Linked DNA regions of Homo sapiens. The protein of the gene in region 1 purifies or fractionates together with the protein of each later gene. This does not show direct contact. Each region holds a gene or a part of one and is shown in the gene's direction. Other genes may lie near its edges. The genes, in order: ERC2, BSN, LSP1 and UNC13A.

The links.
Region 2: the proteins of ERC2 (region 1) and BSN purify together in Homo sapiens (affinity purification with western blotting; one study listed by BioGRID). This does not show direct contact.
Region 3: the proteins of ERC2 (region 1) and LSP1 purify together in Homo sapiens (affinity purification with western blotting, with the first as the bait; one study listed by BioGRID). This does not show direct contact.
Region 4: the proteins of ERC2 (region 1) and UNC13A purify together in Homo sapiens (affinity purification with western blotting, with the first as the bait; one study listed by BioGRID). This does not show direct contact.

What each region holds. Positions count from the first base shown.
Region 1 is NC_000003.12:56,457,748-56,462,429, reverse strand, and holds part of ERC2 (ERC protein 2), read left to right. Parts: intron 1-4,682. UniProt on the Homo sapiens protein: Thought to be involved in the organization of the cytomatrix at the nerve terminals active zone (CAZ) which regulates neurotransmitter release. Seems to act together with BSN. May recruit liprin-alpha proteins to the CAZ.
Region 2 is NC_000003.12:49,658,570-49,663,251, forward strand, and holds part of BSN (protein bassoon), read left to right. Parts: intron 1-1,916; coding exon 1,917-3,993; intron 3,994-4,306; coding exon 4,307-4,682. UniProt on the Homo sapiens protein: Scaffold protein of the presynaptic cytomatrix at the active zone (CAZ) which is the place in the synapse where neurotransmitter is released.
Region 3 is NC_000011.10:1,855,735-1,860,416, forward strand, and holds part of LSP1 (lymphocyte-specific protein 1), read left to right. Parts: intron 1-3,729; exon of another isoform or gene 3,730-3,802; intron 3,803-4,682. UniProt on the Homo sapiens protein: May play a role in mediating neutrophil activation and chemotaxis.
Region 4 is NC_000019.10:17,639,322-17,644,003, reverse strand, and holds part of UNC13A (protein unc-13 homolog A), read left to right. Parts: intron 1-1,043; coding exon 1,044-1,159; intron 1,160-2,447; coding exon 2,448-2,611; intron 2,612-3,342; coding exon 3,343-3,493; intron 3,494-4,095; coding exon 4,096-4,164; intron 4,165-4,478; coding exon 4,479-4,568; intron 4,569-4,682. UniProt on the Homo sapiens protein: Plays a role in vesicle maturation during exocytosis as a target of the diacylglycerol second messenger pathway.

The sequences.
Region 1 (4,682 bases):
GAGTGCATGACATACATGCTTTAGTACGAGTGAAGGTGGAGGGAAAACTGGGCATGAAACAGAGCTGGGGACATGAGAAGATAATGGAATTGAGTGAACCCAAATCATAGTTGCTGTTAACCTATGATCATCTGAGAGCAAAATGAAAGTCTCCTGAAGGCTAGTATTCACTTCTACTGATGGCTTCACATTTGCCCAGAAGTAGGGAATGAGTAATGTAGAGAATTGCTAATGAGATATGAATCACTATTTCATGCTGTGGGGTGGGGTCTTCTACTCATTGTCAATACCATTTATTGAGCCCTTGACGACCTTGTATTAAATGACTTTGGTCTGGGTCTGGCTCCACTGTGCCAGTTAAAGGTAGCAGAGATGAAGGGTAAGGTCAGAAGGTGCTGCAGTGGTACATTAGATTCTGTCCATGGACTTATTTCTGCTAAACATTCTAGACCTTCCTTGAGGGGTAGATTGGGGTTACTTTAACTGTCTGTGTCTCCTTTTTTTCTTCTCTTTACTTTTTAAATTTGTAAAATAAAGGATTTGGTTTACATTCATAGTTTTCAAATGTTTTTCAGCTGTTAAAACTTTGTTTCCTAAATAAAAATTTATCTGGACCCTCAGTATATTTATAGAAAGCAGAGCTGTTCTGGAAATTTAGGGTCCAGATTTATGTTGTATGAAGTGTCTTTATGTTGAGGCCACTGCTCTAAAATGACACCTACACACCCTTCCTGGTTCATGATTATGTGAATCTTATAGCTGTTCAGATGTTTTATTTGTGCATCATCTTTAACAAATCCCTTTGTTATTCCACAGGTTGTGTCTTAATATCATCTGTGGTAGAGACTGTTAATGTTCCCCATAGCCACTTTTTCTTTCCTTCCAGGCATATGTTGGAGGTGGCTTGCATCACTTCCATGCTAGAATATTTGATTTCCAGTGTGAGAGCACCCAGTGCCCTCTTCTACTGCAATGATTACGGAAATGTGTGTTGAGATGGAGCCCTTCATCTGCCTGGGCCTTTCAGTCACTAAATGAACACAGCTTCCCGTCAACTGGAGTTGGACATATAGACCAAGAAGTAAACTTTGGTTGTTTTAAGCCATGAAGAGTTTTGTGATTTTTGGTTTCTGCAGCACTTTTCTGCTTATCTTTACTGATACACCATCTTTGAGCACATCTGCTAAACTTTATGTAACTTACTTTTTGGGTGCCTTCTGGATTAACCTGAAGCCTGGCCAGCTTGTCCTTACTTTGTAGTTAGGAAAAGAGTGGGCTGGCATCTACATCCGCTGTCCGTGCTGGTCTCTGTGCTAATAGATTCTTTGAATTGAAAGCTTTATGCTCAATAACATTTGTTTTCATGCTTAAAAAGTTCCTGAAGACATATTGTATAGTGCACCTCACTGTTCTTTAAAAAAAAAAAAAAAGCCTTTATGCCATCTTGCTTTTTTTTTTTTTTTTTGTATTTTTAGTAGAGACGGGGTTTCACCGTGTTAGCCAGGATGGTCTTGATCTCGTGACCCCGTGATCCGCCCGCCTCGGCCTCCCAAAGTGCTAGGATTACAGGCGTGAGCCACCACGCTAGGCCGCCATGTTGCTTTTTCAAGTATAGAATCTCTGTGGCTTAGAGAGGAATAATGACTATAAGTTACCATAACAATGGCTGTTATTAAGTAGTGATTGATTTGTGAAGTATTTATTGAGTATCTACTTTGTGTTAGGCACTGGGGGTACAGAGATGAACAACAGATAGTTCCTTACTACTTGGAGCTAATACTCCAGTTGGAAGTGATGGATACGTTTGCTCTGTTATATGAAGAGCACCATTTATTGAGCATTTACTATGTGGTAGGCACTGTGCTAGGTGCTTTATATTGCTCATTTCATATTACCTATACAGGTAAATGTATTATCCCATTTTATAGGTGAGGAAACTGAGACTCAAATAATTTGATAAGTTCCATAAAGGCAGGAGCTTTGCCTTTGGCTGTATCCCTAGTGCCTAGATGTTCTGTAAGTATTTGTCAAATGACTGAAGGAACAGAAAAACTTGCTCAGAGTTAATGCTGTGGCAGAGCCAGAGTTTGAATCCACCTCTGCCTTACTCTCAAGGCTGCTAAATTATCACTAGAGAAAGTAGAAACAATGAGTGGCCCCACAATTACAACAGAAACAACCAACAAGCCTTAACCATTGTCAATGCCAAAAGCACCAGGAGCTCTAAGCTGTCTCACTTTCACAGCCAGGGCCGAGCCTTCTTTGTGATTTTCTGCTCATTCTTTCAGCTGGGGAAGTCCAAGGCCACTACATCACTGACTTAATTGTTAATATAATTGGTTACCCTTCTCTTGGGCCAGTTCATCTGCTACTCCAGCCTAATTTCTTCAGCACTTGGCTGGCCAATTCCCAGGGCGTGCCTCAAAGTTCTGCTCTTAACCTCTTGGGCATTACTTCTCCACTTACATCTTCCAGATTTGTTGCTTTGAAGTTGCATTTCCTCTGTTCTTGAACTCATGTTGACTCTGCCAAGCAGAGTTCGCTTGGTCAGAGCCCAGGAATCTCTAGTTGCTGGCACCTAATCAGCACTCAACAAAATTAAAAAGAGAGAGAGTGCGTGTGCATGGAAGAAGAGAAGAAAATAAATAAAGGCAGGAAGAACCTTCAGGAAGGAACTAAGTGGTTATTTTTTCCTGGAAGTCAATGGTGAGATTATAGCCCCACTGGATGAAGAGTTGGAAGGGCATCTGTGAGATATACCTGAAAACCAAAGGCCAGCCGCAATGTTCATAGACATCTTATACCAGCAACTTAGTTTTGCTATGGTTTATTTTTCAGAGTCTACATTTTGCTCACTTAATTATCCTGTGTGAGTGTGTGTGTGTGTGTGTGTGTGTGTGTGGTCTGATAGCATTAGCTCTCTTTTCCTGTCTTAATACTTTCCACCCCTAAAGGTAGTTGTCATTCTGTGATTTCAGGGCATGAATGAGTTGCAGGCAGCAAAGTGCATTTACCCTAAATGCATTAGGAGCAAACTATTAATTCAAGGCAACTTCTTAGTGGGTCAGAAGACAAGAGCTTGAATGGGAATTGAGCAATGTGACTGTTCTTTAAGAATATGCTCAGATCCTTATGCAAACCGTGAAAGATTTCTGCTAAATGGTATGACTAATTGCAGTAAGAAAGAGCAGGGTTTCCTATAAGAAATTGAACCTAGTTGTGCACTGTGGTTACCAGTTCTTATGTGGCATATTTCTCTATAATAAGATAGGTGTGGTCAGGAGTTCATCCTCTATGGGCCTGAGGTGATTGAAGGTGGGTTTGGGGTCTGGGAGCTGCTCTGGCAGTGAGAGTTGAGCAGCTCTGCCAGATGTGAGGTTAGGGCGGTCCCATGATCACTGGTTATTTTCTCAGTGATACTGGTGGGCATCAAATTTCTACCAAGATGTCTTTCTTGTGCCTGGCTTGAGGCAGATTAGCCATGCTCCGTTTTGTCAGCCAGCTCCAGCTGTCATCACCTCGAGGAGCAGTCGTGGTTCAAGGGGCGGGTTCCGAGAGGAGCAGGGTTGTTGACTCTTTTTTTACATTGACATCTCAGGAGAGGATTTTTGATGTCTTTTCTTTCCTTCTGGTGATGTATGTTTTTCCTTCCCTTCTAAGGCTGTAACATTCCCTCCTCCCCCTTCTTTGTTTCGCATTTTGACCCTTTATTCGTATTGTTCATGAAGCCTCTCCCTGACAGGAAGCAGGAGGTTGGGTAGTGAGTGGGATAACAGCGTGGCATTCGTATGGGCTTGTTGAAAATAGGTCCTGTTTGATGCTGGGTGGATACAAAAGCACCTGGGTCTTAGTGGCTGCTGTTCATCAGGCTTGTGAGCGTGGAGCAGTTAGTGTGGGCACGCAAGGGGAATTCTTCACCTTTTTTGTTAAAGCTGAGAAATAACTCTCTTTTTATACATGGGCTTTGAATGCATTCATGGGCCACCTTGAATTCACAACATGAATAGTTGCTTAGAATAACTTCAGAGCAGATTCTTTTGGATACAGAGACATAGCACTGACCTGGGGTCACAAGCCCTAAGTTCCCTTTCTGGCTTTGCCACTAGCTTTCTCCTTATTTGGGATCTCTGTTTCTCTATCATCTAGTCCAATTTGCTTCAAAGGCACTCTTCTAGATCTATTATATATATATTTTTACAACAGTTTCTTCATGCAAAGGTTCAACTAAGTAATTATCATTTTATTAGTTATTTTAACCTGGAAAACAGGAGTGGCTGGTGTTCTTTCATAATAGACATTAGTAACAAAGAATTAAGCCATTCTGTTATGTAGTCGTCGTAAAAGTGTATGCTTGCTTTGTGCCAGTCTTCTTCTGGGAATAGGGTGTGTACACGTCAAGAGGACCATAATAGAGCAGGTAATTTTGTAGGGGAGTTCAGGGATTGTAGTATCCAGTGGAGCACCAAACAAGTAAGCAGGCAATAATGGATGCTCTTTGGGGGAACATCCAGGCTATCATGGAAGACTTAGGAGAGTCATGGATGAAGAATGAAGGAAGGCTTCCTGAAGAAAGTAGCACCTAAAGTGTCACTGAAGGGTAAATGGAATTAGCCAGAGGAGGGAGGATTTGAAGGTACAAATAACAGGGGGAATAGCATGCACTAGGTCCAAAGGTAAGCGAG
Region 2 (4,682 bases), 6.8 Mb from region 1:
ATGGGTGTTTCCTAAGAAAATCAGTCATATGAACCTGGCGCGGCTGCTCTCGTCCTCTCAGTCCTGGCCTGGTTTCCATTGCCACACAGGAAGCCCACACCCCTATGGCCTAGCACTAGAGGCCCATCCCAGCGGGCTGCAGTGTGCTCTCTGCCCCAGGGTGTTCTCTGCCCCTACCTGGCCCTCGGTAAATCTGTTTACACATCTGTCTGCTCCCCTAGATAGGGGATTCAGAAGCATAAGCTTACCCTTGGTTGTGGCTTTATTTGCCAGTGATGGATGGGGACTGTGAGAAGTGGCTTGGCTGTGGGCTGCAGCCAAAGTGAGAATAGAGGGTTGTGAGGGCCTAATGCCAACAACTGAGTGCCAGGCTGAGGAGGATGGGCTTTTCCTAAAGACCCTGGAAGCCTCTGGAGGTTTTAGGCATGTGAGATGGGACAAAGCAGATGTTTTGGAAAGTTTCCTGGGCAGAATGTGGGAGGGTGGGCTGAAGGAAGAGACCTGGCAGAGGAGGCAGGAGCCAGAGGCATCGTAAGGTAGATTTGCCCATTTTCAGGGTGTGACACAGAGACGAGAAAAGTGGAGCCTTAGAATGGGGTTTGTGGAGGTGATAATCTTGGGTAGTGAAGTCTTGGTGTATGCAGGCCATATAGGGGTGTGGGTGGGATCAGGACTCTAGGCTGGCAGGGAGGGCAGGTCAGAGAGGCAGGGTGGTCCTGGCTGCAGGCACAGAGGTCCCATGGGCTGGCCATGTGAGACCAGGCCATGATAGGCACTCATGATGCGTGGCCAAAATAAGAAAAGAGACAACAGAGTGAGGGGTTCAAAAGGCTAAATTTATTCCATAAAAGGCCCACCCTGAAATTTTGAGGGCACACTATAATTTTTATTATGACATATGGTGGATGTAGGTGGGAGGTTTTTAGGTAGTTACTTGGCAAGGTAAAAAGTAAGAATCCTATAGGAGTCACTTCCCAGTATATATTGGAATTTGGGTGGTCCATGAAACCCAAGGGCATGGGGCATTCTGGGAAGGCTAGGAGCGAGAGAAAAAGGGAGAAGACAGAGTGAACTACCAGGCAATGTGGACCTTCAGGCAATGCAGAGTGTCTAGGGTAGGCAAGGAGGACCCCATGGTAGGCACTGTTAGGGAACCTTGACCAGGAAGCCATGCTGCTGGAGGTAGGGCTGGATAGGACTTACGGGTGCACTGGTGGCTCCAGAGAACAGCAGGTTGACCGAGGGACATGGAGGGAGCTGGGGACCAGGCCAAGAGCACAGCCCAGAGGGTTTGGCAGAGGGCAGTGCAGGGCACTAGAGGAAGAGGGTGGGCAGGCAGCTGAGGAGCCTTCCACTTTAGAGAGGACTAGGGCAGGATGCAGAATGACTCAGAGCCTGCCACGATTGGCATACAATCTACATGTGTCCCTTCCCATGATCCTCTAGGGAGCCTGGCGGGCCCAGGACCCTCTCCACTCCATGCCTCCTGTTCATACTCCACTGATCTCAACCCCTGTCAGCTGCTAGGCCCCAAACCCAGAGCCACAGCTGTACTCTTCTTACCTCAATGTGAGGCAGAGGGTGGCAGGCCCATTGGAGATGTGCAGGGGTTCTCAAAGCCATGTGCTGGGCCAGTACAGGACATTGGCATGAAGGGAATCTGCCCGTACCCTCCTGCTTCCCAAAGCTCTGGGAAAGAGAAGGGCTGTAAAATAATCACAGATCTTCCCTCTATGGCAAAGAAACCAAGGCCTATGGGTGGGCAGGGTAGGCCTCCAGGCTGCCTGGTAAATCAGGGCACCAGCAAGATGGAACCCAGCTCCTTCCCCAGCCCAGGCCTGGGTTCTGCCACCCCACACCCCATCAAGTCACCACACCTTGGGTCTCAGTGCTGCCCACCCTTCCCTCTGTCTCAGGTGTCGGCGTTGCCACCCAACAGCCTGGTCCGCAAGGTGAAGCGGACACTGCCCAGCCCCCCTCCAGAGGAGGCTCACCTTCCCCTGGCTGGCCAGGCCTCCCCACAGCTGTATGCAGCCAGCCTGCTGCAGCGAGGGCTGACGGGGCCCACCACTGTCCCTGCTACCAAGGCCAGCCTGCTCCGGGAGCTGGACCGGGACCTGCGGCTGGTGGAGCATGAGTCCACCAAACTGCGCAAGAAGCAGGCAGAGCTGGATGAGGAGGAGAAGGAGATTGACGCCAAGCTCAAGTACCTGGAGTTGGGTATCACACAACGCAAAGAGTCTTTGGCCAAAGACCGGGGTGGCCGTGACTACCCACCCTTGCGTGGTCTTGGCGAGCATCGTGACTACCTATCGGACAGTGAGCTCAACCAGCTGCGGCTCCAGGGCTGCACCACTCCCGCTGGCCAGTTTGTGGACTTCCCTGCCACTGCCGCTGCTCCTGCCACCCCCTCTGGTCCCACTGCCTTCCAGCAGCCCCGCTTCCAGCCTCCAGCCCCACAGTATTCTGCAGGCAGTGGTGGGCCAACTCAGAACGGATTCCCAGCCCACCAGGCCCCCACCTACCCTGGCCCCAGCACGTACCCAGCTCCTGCCTTTCCTCCTGGTGCCAGTTACCCAGCTGAGCCTGGCCTGCCAAACCAGCAGGCTTTCCGCCCCACAGGCCACTATGCAGGCCAAACACCCATGCCAACCACACAGAGCACCCTTTTTCCAGTCCCCGCTGATAGCCGTGCCCCACTGCAGAAGCCACGCCAGACATCGCTAGCCGACTTGGAGCAGAAGGTGCCCACCAACTATGAGGTGATCGCCAGCCCCGTTGTGCCCATGTCTTCAGCCCCATCTGAAACCAGCTACAGTGGCCCAGCAGTGAGCAGCGGCTATGAGCAGGGCAAGGTCCCTGAGGTGCCCCGGGCTGGTGACCGTGGCAGTGTGAGCCAGAGCCCAGCCCCCACCTACCCCTCTGACTCACACTATACCAGTCTGGAGCAGAACGTTCCTCGAAACTACGTAATGATTGATGACATCAGTGAACTGACCAAGGACAGCACCTCTACTGCTCCTGATAGCCAACGGCTGGAGCCCCTGGGGCCAGGCAGCAGTGGGCGTCCAGGGAAGGAGCCTGGAGAACCAGGTGTCCTTGACGGGCCCACACTGCCCTGCTGCTATGCCAGAGGAGAAGAGGAATCTGAGGAGGACTCATACGATCCCCGCGGGAAGGGTGGCCACCTCCGGAGCATGGAGAGCAATGGTCGACCAGCCAGTACCCACTACTATGGTGACAGTGACTACAGGCATGGGGCTCGAGTAGAGAAGTATGGTCCAGGGCCCATGGGGCCCAAGCATCCCTCCAAGAGCCTGGCTCCAGCTGCCATCTCCTCAAAGCGCAGCAAGCACCGGAAGCAGGGCATGGAGCAAAAGATATCCAAGTTCTCGCCTATTGAAGAGGCCAAAGACGTAGAGTCAGACCTGGCGTCCTACCCCCCACCTGCAGTCAGCAGCAGCCTGGTCTCTCGGGGCAGGAAGTTCCAGGATGAAATCACCTATGGGCTCAAGAAGAACGTGTATGAGCAGCAAAAATACTATGGGATGTCCAGCCGGGACGCAGTGGAGGACGACCGCATTTATGGCGGGAGCAGCCGGTCCCGGGCACCTTCTGCATACAGTGGGGAGAAGCTGTCCAGCCACGACTTCAGTGGCTGGGGCAAGGGGTACGAAAGGGAACGGGAGGCTGTGGAGCGACTTCAAAAAGCGGGCCCCAAGCCCTCATCCCTAAGTATGGCCCACAGCCGGGTACGACCCCCCATGCGGAGCCAGGCCTCTGAAGAGGAGAGCCCCGTCAGTCCTTTGGGGAGGCCCCGCCCTGCCGGAGGGCCCCTCCCTCCCGGCGGGGATACCTGCCCACAGTTCTGCTCCAGCCACTCCATGCCTGATGTCCAGGAACATGTCAAGGACGGACCTCGGGCCCACGCATATAAGCGTGAGGAGGGCTACATCCTGGATGATTCCCATTGCGTGGTTTCCGACAGCGAAGGTAATGGCAGCCAGGGGTGATTTCTGCGGATACTCAGCAGCTGGGGGGCCTGCCTACCTGTGGGGCCCTGGGCCCTAAGATGTCCCAGCAGGGTCTGGTCTGGCGCCTCATCTGGTGGGCCCTGCTGCAGGCAGGCTGCCCTTGCCTGCTCCATCTGTGCCCTGGTCCGTGGTTGCGGGAGGGTGGGCTGGGGGCCTGCTGATCTGCTTGTGGCTGTGGCACCCACTCTCTTGGTTTCTTTGCATGGCTTCAGCTAGGCCTCCCCCTGCGGCTAGCCCGGGGGTTGATGGTATTCTGTTTTTGGTCTCTGAAGCGTATCACCTGGGCCAGGAGGAGACGGACTGGTTTGATAAGCCCCGGGATGCCCGCTCTGACCGGTTCAGGCACCACGGGGGCCATGCAGTTTCCTCCTCCTCCCAGAAGCGAGGCCCTGCCAGGCACAGCTACCATGACTACGATGAACCCCCTGAGGAGGGCCTGTGGCCTCATGATGAGGGTGGCCCAGGCCGCCATGCCTCAGCCAAGGAACACCGGCACGGTGACCACGGGCGGCACTCAGGCCGCCACACTGGTGAGGAGCCGGGACGGCGTGCTGCCAAACCACACGCTCGGGACCTGGGTCGCCATGAGGCCCGGCCCCACTCTCAGCCCAGCTCTGCTCCAGCTATGCCGAAGAAGGGTCAGCCTGG
Region 3 (4,682 bases), on another chromosome or scaffold:
TAGCTTGTCCTTGTCCCTTGGGGGCAGGGACGAGGATTTCACAGAGCTGCCTTGTGGCTCTGGGGGGACTCTCTGGTGACGCTGGGGGATGCCTGCCCTCTATAGCCCCCAAGAGCAAGGCTCTCCCCACACTGAGGAACTATCTGGCCTTGGAGGCCTTGAGGCGATGAGGACGGGGCGTCCTGGTCCACAGCTGGGGAGGGTCAGGTTGCCCTCTCAGACCTTGGGTTCGACATATCCAGATGTTGGAGCCCAGCTCTGCAGGGGTGTACCCTCCCTGGGGTCACACTGCATTTTTGGCTGCAGTGCCTGTCCTTGGCCCAGCTGCCCGGGGGTGCCCACCCGCCCAGGCGTGCCCACCCCATGTCCACACCTAGAAGGCAAGTCTGCCTGCCGCCACCCTGTCCCACAGACACCCTGGCTGCCCTCTCAGTCTGCCCCTGTGTAGCCCAGGCCCCCATCAGGATGACCCTACCCCCAGTCTGTTCCCCATGAGCGACCAGGCCGTGTCTCCCACGGAAAGAACCATTCACCAGCTACAGGCAAACTCCATGCCCCTGGGTGGCCATGCCAGGCCCTCCTGGCCTGGTTGAACTCACTTCCCATCCCACCAGCTTTCCCAGCTCTTCCCAGTTTTGGAAGGTGTCAGAGCCCTGGCACATGCCCCTCCTAGCATCACCCAACCGCCCTGCTCCTCTGCAGACCTTCAAAGGCCTGCCCAGCCCGCGGTGGGAGGCCGCTGCCCAGGGCTCTGGCAGCACCTGCCATGGACAGGGCCAGTCCTGGAGCCCCGCCTGGCCCATCGGAGCCTCCCTCGCTTCTCTGTGTGCTGAGCTGAGTTGGGAAGGGCAGGGATGACCTGAGGGGCTGCTCTGGCAGGGTTCCTTCTGGCCATCTGTCCCTGGAGACCCTCAGAGCTCCAGATTCTGAAGGAGGAAGGGGCTGGAGGCCCCCGGCAGCCCCCTGGAAGTCTTCATCTGAGCAGCAGGAGCCCATGGGATGGAACCCCCCAGGCAGCCAGGCCCTTGGGCAGCCCTCCCGCCCACCTGCCCTCCGAGCCAAGGCCAGGCACCACCTGGAGGATGTGCAATGCTCCACGCTGGGGCAGGTGGCCCTGAGAGCCCCCAGCGGTGCCCACGACTGCTCAGGAAAGAGGGCAGAGCTGGGGACAGTTGGGGAAGCCACCTCAGCCCCAGCCCTAGCCCCACAGGGGCTGCTGAGGGAGGTTAGGATTGAGGGCTAAGCCCTGGGGCTCCCTCCCTACACCTTCCTGTGGTCAAGACCTGATGTCTGGACCCAGGATCCCTGGGGAGGTCCCCTTCCTCCTGCCCTGGGTAAGGGGTCTGAGGCATCTGGAAGTTTCCCAGGGAAGCAGAAGGATGTCTTCTTCCTCGTGGGCTGGCAGGCGCTGCTGTCCACCGACACCCAGCTGGGCTGGTCGCACAAGTGGGAGCATCACAGGCCCCACCCCCGCTGATTCTGGAAGCCAGAATCCTTTCTTCCTGCGCCCCCTTCCTGGTTCCCTCGTGTCTCCTAAAACAATCCTGGAGCCACACAAGGGCAGTGCCAGGAGGGTCTGGGGTCCAGCTGGGACAGGCCCTGGCCGGTGACACCCTGGGGTGGCAGGATGGTGGGCCTCTGCTCCGCTACCCTACGGGCCAGCCTGTCTCCACCTCAGTTCCCTGAGAACGTGCCAGAGGGATGGGTGAGCCCTAGAGAAGAGGAGGGTGTTGGCAGTGGAAAGGGCCCAGTGGTCTCCCGCTCTGAGTCCTCAGCCTGGTGAGGGGTGGGGGCGTGAGCTCTGCCTTGCAGTCCCAGCCCCTGAGATCCCACTGCTGGGGCGGCGGGAGGGGGATGGGCTGCAAGGCCCCAGGGCTGGCCTTGCTTCGGCTGCTATAGGCCCTCGGAGTGCTTTCTGGATGAGTAAGCCGCACCCCTCTGAAGCCTCAGTTTCCCCATCTGCACACTCAGAATGTAGCCACTCAGACCAAGCGTTCACTCCATGCCAGTCTTTGCCAAGCTATTTATTTATTTATTTGAGACAGAGTCTCGCTCTGTTGCCCAGACTGTAGTGCAGTGACACAATCTCGGCTCACTGGAACCTCCGCCCTCCAGGTTCAAGAGATTCTCCCACCTCAGCCTCCTGAGTAGCTGGGATTACAGGCACCTGCCACTGCCCCCGGCTAATTTTTGTATTTTTAGTAGAGAAGAGGCTTTCACCATGTTGGCCAGGCTGGTCTTGAACTCCTGACCTCAGGTGATCCACCCGCCCCAGCCTCCCAAAGTCCTGGGATTACAAGCATGAACCACCGCGCCCTGCCTTTGCCAAGCTTTTTAAACCAAGGCTCTTGTTTCATCCCCCGGAGCTGTGAGGCAGGTCCCTGGAGCCTCCCATTTCACAGACGGAAACCGAGGCTCACAGGGGCCAAGTGCATTGTCCAAGGGCTGCTCCCTGCCTGGGGAGGGGCCTGAGTCCTTGCCCCTGTGGGGTTCGGGTGCTGAGGGCCCACAAGACCTGCGGGCACCAGGAGGGAGCTGGGCTGGGCTGCCCTTCCCGGGGTCTCTCTGACCCCACACCACACACCAGCCACTCTGGACTCAAAGGCTCCCAAGAGCACCAGAGCACTGCTCATGGCCCAAGCTCAGCAAGCACTTAAAGGGACCGTCCCGAAAAGCGGAACTGGGACCGGGCGCTGCAGGACCAGCAAGGTCCTCCACTTCCCTCCAGCCCAGCCCCGCCCAAATCCCAGCCCTCAGCATCTTTTTGGGGGCCACTAAAGACCTTCTGGGAGATGGCAGCCCAGGACCATAAGGCAATCGAAGAGGGCTTTCCACATGCGCTGAGGCAGACAGAACCAGGCCCTGGCTGTGGACGAGGCTGTATTGATACTTAGAAGAGAGGGAAGCGAGCGGGCTGGAGAGGCTCGGCCAGGGGGCAGCCCAGCAGGGCCCCTTCCCCAGGGTTAGACTCTCTACAGCCGGCCCAGCCCCCATCCCCTCCCCAACATCTAGGGACCTGAAAAGAGGTTGGAGGGGCTGCATGGGGGTGGGGTTGATAGGAGATTAGGGGATTGAGAAAGCCAGGCCTCCTAGCCGTGTCCCACCCAGCACGGCCCCACCAGTGCCAGACACAGGCAGACAAGGGAGGAGGGAGATGCTGAGCAGGGGTGGCAGGAGGAAAGCCCCTGGCCCTTTCTTGGGGCCAGGCAAGTCCTATCCTAACTCCATCTGCTAACTGCCTCCAAGCTGCTTGTGGGTTGTCGGGGAAGGGAGTTTGTGGCAGGGAGGGCCTCTGAGTCCCCTGTATCCCCCGGCAGGAGGAGGCAGGCACATGGGCCCCTGACCTCAGTGCTTGGAGCAGGGCCGCTCTGGTGGGGCATTTGTAGGTCACAGCATGAAGGGTTCCAGCATACTTCCTGGGTTCCCAGTTTCCCTGGGAGCAGTGGTATAGACGCAGGGGCCTCTACACACACCACACGCTCAGGGAGAGTGGCTGAGGTGTCCAGGATACTCTGTCCACTGGGGCAGGGGGTGGCTTCTAAGCCCAGTACCCTTCCCAGAGTCCCCAGTCTCCAGCTGCTCATGGGCTGCAGATGAGGATTCAAGGTTATGCAGGGGTCACTCTCCTGCTCCATCCCTGGCAGGTGGGACCTCACCTACTGCTTCTTTCTGCTCCAGAGAAGAGCACGTCCCCCTCATCTCAAAAGTGCCTGTGCTCCTCCTTCCTGAGTGGAACCTACACTTTTGACAGTTTGGTTTCTGAGGCAAGGCTGCCTCCTCCTCCTGTCCCAGGTACCTCCCCTCAGAAAAGCAATGGGACTTGGGATAGAAGGATCTAGCCAATTCGTTCCAGATGAATCTAGAAATAATCCTTTAGCCTTTCTCTTAGACCCAGTCCCAACCAAAATCTGAGCTTCATCACCACCACCCAGCACCCACCATTCACCACCCAGCCTCCAGCCCCCAGCCCCCAGCCCCCAGCCCCCAGCACCCATGACCCACCACCCTGCCCCCTACCCGTGGCTCTGGCCCATTCTCCTGCTGTCAGCAGTGCCTGCTTGAACAGAGGGCCACACTGAACAGATGCATGCTGCAAGCATTTGGAGGCTGCCTCCTCTTTAAATCACAGACATTTATCCACCAGGGATCACTCGGGAGCCAATGAGGCCACCACCCTGACCTCCCCTGTCCCCATGGGCTCTCTCAGTGCTCAAAGCACCTTTCACTGGGATGCTGCTCTGTGAACATACATTCGCAGGTATGTGTCGGGGATGATGAGAATGTGTCAATATGAAGACAGATCCCTGCCCCTGTAGCCCCTGCTTAGGCTCTATTGAGGTGTTCAGCCTCCTGGGCCATGGTGGTCTGCTTTATCCTTGGGCCATGAGCTTATGAACCATGTCTTAGTTGCATAAGAAAGGAAAAATAAAGATTAGAAAAGAATCAATTATGGAGAACAGTATGAATGAATGGAAAGATGAATGAAGAATGATAGGAAGTAGGAACAAATGGATGGATGGATGGATGGATAATTGAATGATGGATGGATGGATAATTGAATGATGGATGGATGGGTGGATGGATGGAGGGATGAGTGGATGGATAGGTGCATGGATCGATGGACAGGTGGGTGAATGGATGGGCAGATGGATGGGGTGGATGAATGAATGGGTTGGATGGAC
Region 4 (4,682 bases), on another chromosome or scaffold:
GCAGAGCCCGGAAACCTCTTAGATTGGAGGACATCTAGATATCCCATTCTGATGGGGGAGGTGGGAGACAAGACCAGGGGGTCCTAGTCTGAGGAGAGAGGCACAGACCCAGGAACAGTGTCTAAGATGTGTAGTCTCCGGGGAGCATGATCTGATGGGGGAGGCAGGGCCTGGGAGCTCAGACTGGGAAAGAAGTGGGGCCTAGGGCTGCTAGTCTAAGGAGGGAGGCACATAGCCAGGAACTTAATCTGAGTGAAGAAGCAAGGTCTGGGATCCTTGTTTGAAGGAAGAGACAGGGCTTAAGGAATTCTAGCCTAAACAGGGAGACTCAAGCCTAGGGAGCCAATCAGAAGAGAGACACCAAAGCCTTAGTTTCCGGAAGTCTGGGAGGACTACAGAATCGTGTATCTATTAAAAATTGCCTTGGGAGGCCGAGGCGGGCGGATCACCTGAGGTCAGGAGTTCGAGACCAGCCTGGCCAACATGGTGAAACCTCGTCTCTACTAAAAATAAAAAATTAGGTGGGTGTGATGGCACATGCCTGTAATCCCAGCTACTCGGGAGGCTGAGGCAAGACAATTGCTTGAACTCAGGAGGTGGAGATTGCAGTGAGCCAAGATTGCGCCACCGCACTCTAACCTGGACCACAGATCTCAAAAAAAAATAAAATAAAAAAAAATTTGCCCATGGCTGGCCGGGCGCGGTGACTCACGCCTGTAATTCCAGCACTTTGGGAGGCTGAGGTAGGTGGATCACCTGAGGTAAGGAGTTCGAGACCAGCCTGGCCAACATGGTGAAACCCCGTCTCTACTAAAAGTATAAAAATTAGCTGGGCACGGTGGCAGGCACCTGTAATTCCAGCTAGTTGGGAGGCTGAGACAGGAGAATCGCTTGAACCCAGGAGGTGGAGGTTGCAGTGAGCTGAGATCGTGCCACTGCACTCCAGCCTGGGTGACAAGAGCAAGACTCCCTCTTAAAAAAAAAAAAATTGCCCACTGCTATAGTGGGAAGTTCTGACACTGTCTTCTTTTTCTGCCCTGCAGACAAGCGAACTGACAAATCTGCCGTGTCGGGTGCCATCCGGCTCCACATCAGTGTGGAGATCAAAGGCGAGGAGAAGGTGGCCCCGTACCATGTCCAGTACACCTGTCTGCATGAGGTGAGGGTCATTGCTCGGCCCCTCCCATGCCACTTCCACTCACCATTCCTGCCTGCCCAGCTCTTCCTCTTTCTGGCCACACCATCCACACTCTCCTGGCCCTCTGAGACTGCCCGCCATGCCATTCCCTTTACCTGGAAAACTCCTCCCTATCCATCAAAGTCCAGATTCAGGGTCACCTCCTCTGGGAAGCCCACCTTGGCCTCCAGGTTGACTCTCACTACTCATCATCAGGTTCTTCCTTCTATTCCAGCCCTAACCACTCAGGATTGGGCCGTTTGTGTCTGGGTATGTCTCTTCCAGCTGCCTGGGTTTCCTGGAAAGAACTCTTATCCCCAGGAACTAGTTTGTTGAATAAATGCTGGTGAATGAATGAATGATTGAACAGATGAATGAGTGATGAGTAGATAAAAGGATGGATGGAGAGATGGGTGAGTACATGGATGGATAGATGGATGAGTTGGTGGGTAGATTCGTGGCTAGATGGATGATGGATGGATGGACAGATGGATGGATATATGATTGAACTATTGAAAGTATAGATGTATGGATGGGTGAATTTGGGGGTAATTGTTAGATGATGGATGAGTATAGATGAATGATGGATGGATAACTTGATGAGTGGATAGATAGATTGCTGGATAGATGATTGACTGGGTGGATAGATGAAATGTTGGATGAGCAGATTAAGTTGTATTGGATGGGATGGATGGAAGTGTGGTTGAGTTATTAGAAGGAAGATTGAGTAGATAGGTGAATTTGTTGATAGTCAGATGGGTAGATAGGTAGATGGATGGATGGATGGATGGATGTATAGGCAGATGGACAAATGGATGAATGGGTGGGTGGATGAATGGAAGGATGTGTGGTTGAACTATTGCAAGTATTGATAATTGGGTTCATAATTTCTGAATATTTAGATGGATGGTTGTGAGTGGCTGGTGGACAGACGAAAAATGGATGGTTGGATAAATTGATGGGTGGATGGATGGTTGGTTGTATGAAAGAATGAATGATTGGGTAGGTGGATTAAGTTGCGGATCAATGTATGGGATGGATGAATGGATGGATGGATGGATGTGTGGTTGAATTACTGAAAGGTTGGAAGAGTGGATGGGTGAAATTTGGGGTAGTTAGATGGGTGGGTGTGTGGATGGATAAAAGAGTAGATGAATGAATTAATGAATAAACAGGCAGATGGATGATGTAAGCTGCCCCAGACCCTGGGACCTCTGACCCCCGGCGACCCCTTGCACTCTCCATGACACTTTCTCTCCCATGGTGGCAGAACCTGTTCCACTTCGTGACCGACGTGCAGAACAATGGGGTCGTGAAGATCCCAGATGCCAAGGGTGACGATGCCTGGAAGGTTTACTACGATGAGACAGCCCAGGAGATTGTGGACGAGTTTGCCATGCGCTACGGCGTCGAGTCCATCTACCAAGCCATGACGTGAGACTGCAGGCTGGGGTGCAGGAAACAAGAGGGAGGTCACCAAGTGGGCACTGGCAGGTCTGGGGTGGGAGGGATTCTCAGGGGGAAGACCCAGAGAGGAAGTGGGCGTGGTGGTGGTGGGTTCCGTAATTCCCCTGGAGATCAGGAGAGCGCTGTGATTGACACCTGGAGTGACATGGAAGAGAGGGAAGACTTAGAAGCAGAGATAGAGGCTGGGCACAGTGGCTCAAGCCTGTAATCCCAGCATTTTAGGAGGCTGAGGTGGGCGGATCACTCCAGGTCCAGGAGTACAAGACCAGCCTGGCCAACATGGTGAAACCCCATCTCTACTAAAAATACAAAAGTTATCCAGGTGTGGTGGCTTGGGCCTGTAATCCCAGCTACTCGGGAAGTTAGGGTGGGAGAATTGCTTGAACCTGGGGGGCAGGGGTTGCAGTGAGCCGAGATTGCGCCACTAAACTCCAGCCTGGGTGACAGAGTGAGACTCCATCTCAAAAAAAAAAAAAAAAGAAAGAAAGAAAAAAAGAAGCAGAATTAGAGCAACTCAAATGGATATAAAGATGGAGGGGAGAGGAGATGCGGAGACCCAAAGGACAGAATCAGGCAGGGGATGGTTTAGGAGGTGACAGAGACCCACTCACAGATGCTATCTTGGAGGCATTCTAGGGGGGATCTTGGTCCATCCTGGCTGGACCCCTGGCCTAGTGCCTCCTGCTCCCTCTCTCCAGCCACTTTGCCTGCCTCTCCTCCAAGTATATGTGCCCAGGGGTGCCTGCCGTCATGAGCACCCTGCTCGCCAACATCAATGCCTACTACGCACACACCACCGCCTCCACCAACGTGTCTGCCTCCGACCGCTTCGCCGCCTCCAACTTTGGGGTCAGTCCTGGGGACTGGGATTGGAGAATTAGGGAGAGCCCAACTTTATGCCGGTCAGATCTGATGTGACTTCTGGGTCCCCAGTCTAGACCTGATTGCTGTGTGACTTTCCACCAGTCACTTCCCGTCTCTGAGCCTCCATTTATTCCTCTGTAGAATGCTATAGAATGGAGGTCGGGCGCAGTGGCTCATGCCTGTAATCCCAGCACTTTGGGAGGCCGAGGCTGGAGAATCACTTGAGGCCAGGAGTTCGAGACCAGCCTGGCCAACACGGTGAAAACCCGTCTCTTCTAAAAATCCAAAAGAAAATTAGCTGGGTGTGGTGGCCTGTGCCTGTAGTCCCAGCCACTTGGGAGGCTGAGGCAGGAGAATTGCTTGAGCCTAGGAGTCGGAGGTTGCAGTGAGCTGAGACTGCGCCACTACACTCCAGCCTGGGCAACAGAGCAAGACTCTGTCTCAAAACAAAAAAAAAAATGCCATAGAATGGAAATGGACATTATGAGGGTGGTGGATGAGGTATACTTACTGTACAGTAGGCGCTCAGCCACTATGGCGGCCATGTCCTGCCTCCATCCATCCTCCCTCCTCCCCTTCCTCCTCAGAAAGAGCGCTTCGTGAAACTCCTGGACCAGCTGCATAACTCCCTGCGGATTGACCTCTCCATGTACCGGGTAGGAAGTGTGTGCATGAGAATTTGCTCACCCCACGCACATGTGTGTGCCTGGAGGGGAAAGCTACCAGCAGGTGTGTGCATGGGAGGACCCATCTTCGCATGTACGATGTGTTCCTCCAGCATGTGTGCACCTGCATGGGCACTACCTGCCGTAATGTGCTTGGTGCATCCAAGCAGATCCCCAGTTGCTTCGAGGTGCTCTAATCAACCCCCAGCCTGAAACCGGGGAGCCTTTGTATCCCCCTGAAAAGCAGTCTCCCATCCTCCCCACGCCTTCTTCCATAACCCCACATCTCTTCCTGCTCCCAACAGAATAACTTCCCAGCCAGCAGCCCGGAGAGACTCCAGGACCTCAAATCCACTGTGGACCTTCTCACCAGCATCACCTTCTTTCGGATGAAGGTAGGAAAGGATCCAGTTGCCTTTGCTCTCCAAGGAGGGTTCTCTAGGATCCCCAGCTCCCAGGACAAGTGACATTCCTCCTGGAGAGTGGCAGCCTTTCTCAGTAACCTTTTC